Linked DNA regions of Homo sapiens. The protein of the gene in region 1 interacts with the protein of each later gene in a pairwise test. Each region holds a gene or a part of one and is shown on either strand. Other genes may lie near its edges.

Region 1 (3,821 bases):
GTGAGAGGATCACTTCAGCTCAGGAAGACTGAGGCTGCAGTGAGCCATAATCATGCCACTGCACTCCATCCTGGGTGACAGAGTGAGACTCTGTCTTTAAAAAAAAAAAAAGAAAAGCCAATCCAATTTTGGGACAACTGCACAATGTCTCAATAGAGGATAATTAATTAATGTTGATTTTCTTGGATGTGATAAAGATTGTGGCTAGGTAGTACAATGTCCTTATTCTTAGAGATTAAGTGTCTCTAAGTCTGTGATTTCCTTTCACAAGGCTTAGGGGAAAAAGGTTTACATATCTATATCAAGTAACAATTGGTAAACTTAGGCAAGGAGGGAAAGACATTACCATACTATTCTTTCTACTTTGCTTTGGGTCTGAAATTTTTCAAAATAAAAATTTGGGAAAACAATTTTTAAAACTAGGGCATGAAAGGAGGTATAAAAAATCTAATTTGGGGAAGGGGAACCAAAAGAAAAATATGGAAAGTATGCTTTAAGACACATTCACCAATTCTGTGCAAAGCTTATTAGCGTATGCAGCTGAAAAGCTCAGACTACTCTGGGATGCACCAAACTGACCTGTGTTCACTGAACACACTTCCGCTGCCAGATGTGTTTAGGCTTTTTCAGATGAGGAGCCAGGCCTCAATTTCCGTAAGTCAATCTTTCAAATTAACTGAGAAATTAGACCTTCTTTATACTATAGCCCAACCATTTTTCCAATGAACTTTCAGACACAAGTTACAAAAAACAAAGAAGATAAAATCTATTGCTACAATGCGTTAAAATAATACTGGCACTAACCCTGCCGCAATGATCCTCTTCTATTTCTATCTCATTTCTGAATGTAGGAACCACCTCCCTGCCTTCAGTCCAGTACATCCCTCGCCTTCTGTCTGACACGATACAAGTTTTGCTTTGTCCTGGCTCCTGCTGCCTACGCCTTGCAATAGATGTGACTTTGAGAGGTGTGTTGTACGTAGGAATTTTCTGCTCCCATTCCGAAATACAGGAAGCTACAGAAATGCTGCTGCAAGAGTTAGAGCGCCTATGTAGCTGTGGCTGGCTCATGAGTTGCTGGCCGTTGGAAATCTGAGCAATATAGTTACTAGAAAGCTAGAAAAATTGGAGAAAAATTAATGAGCAAGACTGAAAAACTGAGAGAAACAATTCATTACTTTTCTATAATGTTAGCACATGAAGACTTAACATTACAAATAATTATTTGTTCTATTTTTTTGTGCTAAATTTGTGTTTATTCTAAATTTTAAAATATTTTTAGAGAAATTTCAGAAATGTAAGTATTATAAAATGTAAAAATCCTCATAGAAATAGTCATCTAATCTGAACAAAATTTCTCTAGTACAAAGTTACTACACAATTACAAATAACTTACAGGCACAGGTGATGGAGAAACAGATCTTTGAGTAACTTTTTCTCGATCTCGCTCCCGAGAGGGTCTCTCTGGCTTCTCAGTTTTAGGTTCGGTAACAATAGCCTTCAGTTGTTTCAGCTTTTCATCTTTAACCCAGAGTTTATTCTGCATCTCCAGCTGTTTGGCTGCCACTCTACGCTCCTACAGATTATCAGTGGCAATGTATATTATCATTCCATCACAGCAAACGAGTACACCAGATTACCCAATCTCTTTATTTCCTAAAAATGACAGTTCTCCAATTCTTCCTGAGAGTTAACAACCACCACCAAAACCCTACCGCAAATACAATAATTCAAAATATCGAACCTAACTACAATGTAAAATAAATCATCCGACTCTGAGACAAGCACTACCCAAACGATACTCACACATTCTTTCTCCCACTTCATTGTCGTTTCTGTCACCATGCCTTGCAACCTGGCTTCTAATCTGCGTTTGTCAGAAAACTGTCGCTGAAGTTTCTGGTTCTGAGTTTCAAGTTCCTGTTGCAAATTGCGTTTATCTTCCTCATAGATAGTAGTTGTTTTCTCTAAAATCTCAATCTAGGAAGGTAGACCACTATGTTCAATATTTGGTATATAAACATTTCATGTCGCTATAAAATAGTCTTCCTTAATTTGCTTATGCAAGCATATTTGTGGAAAGAAACATCATGGAGAAAGCACTTTTTTCTCTAACATTTCATCTGAATTCCCACCCCCATTCTCAGAAATGAAAACATGTTAAACAAGCTCCTCACCCAAAGACATTTACAACTAACTTCATGTGAAAATTACTTTCTCCTAAAATTAAGGGCTAAAATTTAGTTTTTAGGCTATTTTCAGAATTTAAAAAAACTATATTGGTTGAGACTAACTTCTCTTATGAATGTGTACCCCCACCAAACCTCTAAATGACCCTCTGTAAATGAGAGAACAGACATACATTACACAGTGCTGCAATGCTTCCCAACAAAACGGTATTTCCTTCTACCCCATTGTAAGAGATTAATCCTGAGTTTATACTTTTACAATCGATTTGTAAACCAAATACAGATCCAATTAAGCTTTACTGAGTATCTGTTACGTCCAAGGCCCGATGCTGGCACTTTTATACCATTTCATTTAATCATTTATCTCATTAAAAAAAAAAAGCATACTAAGGAAATATTTCTAATAAATTCAAAAGCAAGCTACAACCAAAGCTAAGCTCTAGAAAGCTCCCTTGTTTGGGTCAGAGAACATCCTTTTCAACTGTTAAAACTCTCATAAAATTAAAGAACATATGATTCTTCATTTCACTCACATTTCCTCCTTAGCATGGGATGAGGATTAGTAAACAACCAATTGAGAACTTTTTTTTTTTTTTTGAGACAGGCTCTCGCTCTGTCACCTAGGCTGGAGTGCAGTCGTGCAATCCCAGCTCACTGCAGCCTCAACCTCCCAGGCTCAAGCTGTTCTCCCATCTCAGCCTTCCGAGTAGCTGGGACTACAGACATGTACCACCATGCCTGGCTAATTTTTTTTGTAGATATGGGGTTTCGCCACGTTGCCCGGTCTGGTCTGGAACTCCTGGGCTCAAGTGATCTCCCTGCCTTGGCCTCCCAATGTGCTGAGACTACAGGCATGAGCCCCCGCACTCAGCCTGAGAACTCTTTTTTTTTTTGAGACAGAGTCTTGCTCTTGTCGCCCAGGCTGGAGTGCAGTGGCTCAATCTCGGCTCACTGCAACCTCCACCTCCCCAGTTCAAGCGATTCTCCTGCCTCAGCCTCCTGAGTAGCTGGGATTACAGGCACTCGCCACCACGCCCAGCTAACTTTTGTACTTTTTTAGTAGAGATGGGCTTTTGCCATGTTGGCCAGGCTCGTTCTTGAACTCCTGACCTCAGATGATCTGGCCACCTCAGCCTCCCAAAGTGTTGGAATTACCTGCATGAGCCACCGCACTCAACCGAGAACTCTTAATAAGCAGCATTTACAGGCCGTTGGAGCACAATATCTCCCTCAGAGAACAGTGCTAAAACACCAGCACATACATCTATCATAATAATGTCAAAACAAACCTTATATTCTAAAGTTTTGTTTTTCTTTTCCAGTCGTTCTATTTCCAATTTCTGTCCTGAGATCATCTTCTCCTTTTCATTTAGTTTCCCTTGCATGTGGTTTTCTTTACTTAAAACAGCATTGTCAAATTCTTGTAACAAAGCTTTAAAAGCATTAGCTGAAACAAAAACATACAGGTCAAGTTTTACACCAGTTCTAAAACAAACAATGATATCAACTTTTGCTAGCAGACACTAGATAAAATGTAGTTATTCAGCAAATCTCTGTGAGAATCAGTCTATAATGAGAAAACAAGTTTAGAGGGAAATCAGGAGCTTCATTCTCCAGTTGACAAGATATTCA
Region 2 (3,821 bases), on another chromosome or scaffold:
AAAACTTAAAAATCAGCCGGGTGTGGTGGCGAGCACCTGTAGTCCCAGGTATTTAGGAGGCTGAGGCAGAAGGACTGCTTGAGCCCAGGTGATAAGGCTGCCGTGAGCCATTATCGTGCCACTGAACTCCAGCCTGGGCAACAGCAGAAGACACTGTTCCCCTCCACCAACCCTCCCCCACAAAAAAACAAACCTCAAAATCATTATGCTGAGCAAATTAGACAAGAGTATATCCTGTATGATGACTCTACTTATATAAAATTCTGGAAAAAGCAAACTAACACATAGAGACAGAAAGCAAATGAATGGCTGCCTGAGGACAGAGGTGGAGGGACATATTGCAGAGGGTTAGAAGAAACTCGAGATGATAAAGTGTTTGGTATCTGGACTATGGCAGTGGTTTCAAGATTGCCTACATATGTTAAAATTATAAAATTGTACATGTCAAATATGTGCAGTTTACTGGAAGTAGCCTTAATAAACTAAAAAAAAAAAAAAAAGGTTTTAAACATTTTGGCTATAAGAAAAAGGAAAAAAGTTTTACATGGCAAAATTTCCCATAAGCCAAGTCAAAAAGCCAACAAGCTAGGGTGTGGTGGTGTGCACCTGTAGTTCCAGCTACTTGGGAGGCTGAGGCAGAATGATTACTTGAGCCTAGGAATTCCAGGCTATAGTGGACTATGACTGAGTCACTGCACTTCTGCTGGAGAACAAAGCAACACTCTATCTCTTAAAAATAAAATAAGGCCCAGCGCGGTGGCTCATGCCTGTAATCCCAGCACTTTGGGAGGCCGAGGGTGGGGCAGATCACCTGAGGTCATGAGTTTGAGACCAGCCTGACCAACATGGGGAAACCCCGTCTCTACTAAAAATACAAAATTAGCCAGGTGTAGCGCACATGCCTGTAATCCCAGCTACTCAGTAGGCTGAGGCAGGAGAATCACTTGAACCAGGGAGGCGGAGATTACGGTGAGCTGAGATCACGCCATTGCACTCCAGCCTGGGCAACAAGAGCAAAACTCCGTCTCAAAAAATAAATTAAATAAATAAACAAATAGCAAATGACAAATAGAGAAAAATATTCATAATTCATGTCACAAAAGACTGATTTCATGAACATCCCACAGATCAATAAGACTAATAATTCAAATAAAAGAAAGCACAAATGACTCTTAAATTACATGACAAGATGCTCACTCATAAGAGAAATTCAAATTAGAAATACCACACTCAGGTTTCCAACAACCACAAAGCTCAAAAACATACTTTTTTTTTTTTTTTTGAGATAGGGTCTCACTGTCATCCAGGCTGGAGCGTAGTGGTGCAATCATGGTTCACTGCAGCCTCCATTCTCCGGGCTCAAGTGATCCTCCCACCTCAGCCCCCAGAGTAGCTGGACTACAGGCGTGCACCACCTTGCCCAGCTAATTTTTTTGTTTCTTTGTAGAGATGAGGTCTCGCCACGCTGCCCAGGCTGGTCTCGAACTCCTAGGCTCATGCAATCCACCCACCTCAGCATCCCAAAGTGCTGGGATTGCAGGCATGAGCCATCTTCCCTGGCCAACATACTGTTTTTGTAAAGTAAAAGACTTTACTGTTGGTAAAGATGTGGGAACATAAATAGGTTGCAATCTCTACGAGACAGCAGTCAAAATTGTGAATGCAAATACCCTTCTGACTGAGCAATGCCACTGCTAGAAGTTTATCCTACAGATAAGTTTAGCTTATGTACAAAATTACCTAAGTACAAGGTCACTCATTTACTCCAACATTATTTGTTTTGTTTTGAGAGAGCGGGTCTTGCTTGTCGCTCAGGCTACAGTGCAGTGGTGTGATCACAGTTCACTGAAGCCTCAAGCTCCTGGGCTCAAGTGATCATCTCACGTCAGCTTCCCAAGTAGCTGGGACTACAGACACGTGCCTCCATGACCAGCTAAAATATTACAGCAGGTTTTTTTTTTTTTTTTTTTTTTTTTGGAAGACAGGGTCTCACTCTATCACCCGGGCTGGAGTGCCAGGGGTGCAATCATAGCTCCACTTCCTGAGCTCAGGTGCTCCTTCGTCTGATTCCCAAGCAGCTGGGACTACAGTGCACAGCATCATGCCCAGCTAATTTTTTGTAGAGATGGGGTTTTGCCATTTTGCCCAGGGAGGTCCTGGGCTCAAGCGATCTGCCCACCTTGGCCTCTAATGGTGCTGAGATTACAGGCGTGAGCCACTGCACCCGGCCTTCAGCATTATTTGTAATGGTCATGAGACTGGGAAAAAACTTTATGTCCATCAGTGGGAGATTTGATAAAATAAATTAAGGCACACCTAGAGAATACTCTAAGAAAAAGGGCATTTTTAAAAAATGCTATAAAAATAATCACTTTCACACCAATATAAACAGATCTCCAAGTTGTACTAAGCAGAAAAAGGGAAGGTGTGGAGTAGTGCATATATTAAATACCAGTGAGTTAAACTGTTTTATGTGGGAAGAAGAACATCTATGCGTATCAGTTTTTAAATGCTAAGATGTCTCTAGAAGCTTACATAAGAAACTAAAAACACTTGCCTAGGGTAGGGAATTGGCTGACTAGAGAAAAGGTGTATAATTAAATTTTATTTATTTATTTATTTTGAGACAGAGTCTAGCTCTGTCACCAAGGCTGGAGTGCAATGGCGTGATCTGGGCTCACTGCAACCTTCATCTCCTGGGATCAAGCGATTCTCTTGCCTCAGCCTCCCAAGTAGCTGGGACTACAGGCATGTGCCACCACACCCTGCTAATTTTTCTATTTTTAGTAGGGACAGTGTTTTGCCATGTTGGCCAGGCTGGTCTCAAACTCCTGGCCTGAAGTGATCCACCTACCTCGGCCTCCCAAAGTGCTGGGATTACAGGTGTGAGCCACCACAGCCAGCCATCATTAAATTTTAAATTAAAAACAACAACAAAAAGGCAGTGGCTCATGCTCATAATCCCACTGCTTTAGAAGGCTGAGGCAGAAGGATTGCTTGAAGCCCGGGGTTCAAGACCAGCCTGAAAAACATAATGAGACTCTGTGTCTACAATAAAATAAAATAAATTAGCCAGGGTGGTGTGCACACCTGTAGTCCCAGCTACTGGGGACACTGAGATGGAAGCATCACTTGAGCCCAAAAGTTTAAGGCTACAGTGAGCCAAGATCTTGCCACTGCACTCCAGCCTGGGTGACAGAGCAAGAGCTTGTATGTTAAAAACACAAAACAAAACAAAGAAACAAAAAAACAATGAGATGGGGCTGGAGGAGAAGCTGACGGTATGGTGTGAAAATTCCAATTTTCTAACATATCCCACTAAACTCCTCAGTAGTACTTGTACATACACCTGTCAGAACCTCTGTTTCTGTTCAAATTTAGGCTCCTGGGTTTCAACTTCATACAGAAATAAAAGTATGACTCAAAAAGAAGGGTTGTATCTTACTAAGGTTTCTAGTCACCACAGCACTGAACAATGCCTGGTATCTAGGAGGATCTGCATCTTTGGTTACCTCAGCAAACACTGTGGGAATCTATATATTTATCAACTCTTAACTATACACCTGGCACTGTGATGGTTATGAGGAAAAACCGGCGAAGACCTGGTCGGCCAAATAACTCCAAATGAAGACTCAATATTGAAATGAAGTCACCAAGATGTCCAAAGGGACTGTTGCCATACAAAAGCTTGATAGAACAGGATTCCCAGAAATGTTTCTAAAGTACATTATTATATTTTATCTAATATAAAGAAATATCTGCTTATAAACTTCATCATTTCATATACCATTAAGAGAGAAAAACACCCAAGATATGAGACT

Evidence for each region.
Region 2: the proteins of KIF23 (region 1) and RBM34 interact in a two-hybrid assay, tested with the Homo sapiens proteins (one large-scale study listed by BioGRID).

Annotation. Positions count from the first base shown.
Region 1 is NC_000015.10:69,438,063-69,441,883, reverse strand, and holds part of KIF23 (kinesin-like protein KIF23), read right to left. Parts: intron 3,637-3,821; coding exon 3,479-3,636; intron 1,981-3,478; coding exon 1,807-1,980; intron 1,577-1,806; coding exon 1,397-1,576; intron 1,117-1,396; coding exon 805-1,116; intron 1-804.
Region 2 is NC_000001.11:235,144,016-235,147,836, forward strand, and holds part of RBM34 (RNA-binding protein 34), read right to left. Parts: intron 1-3,821.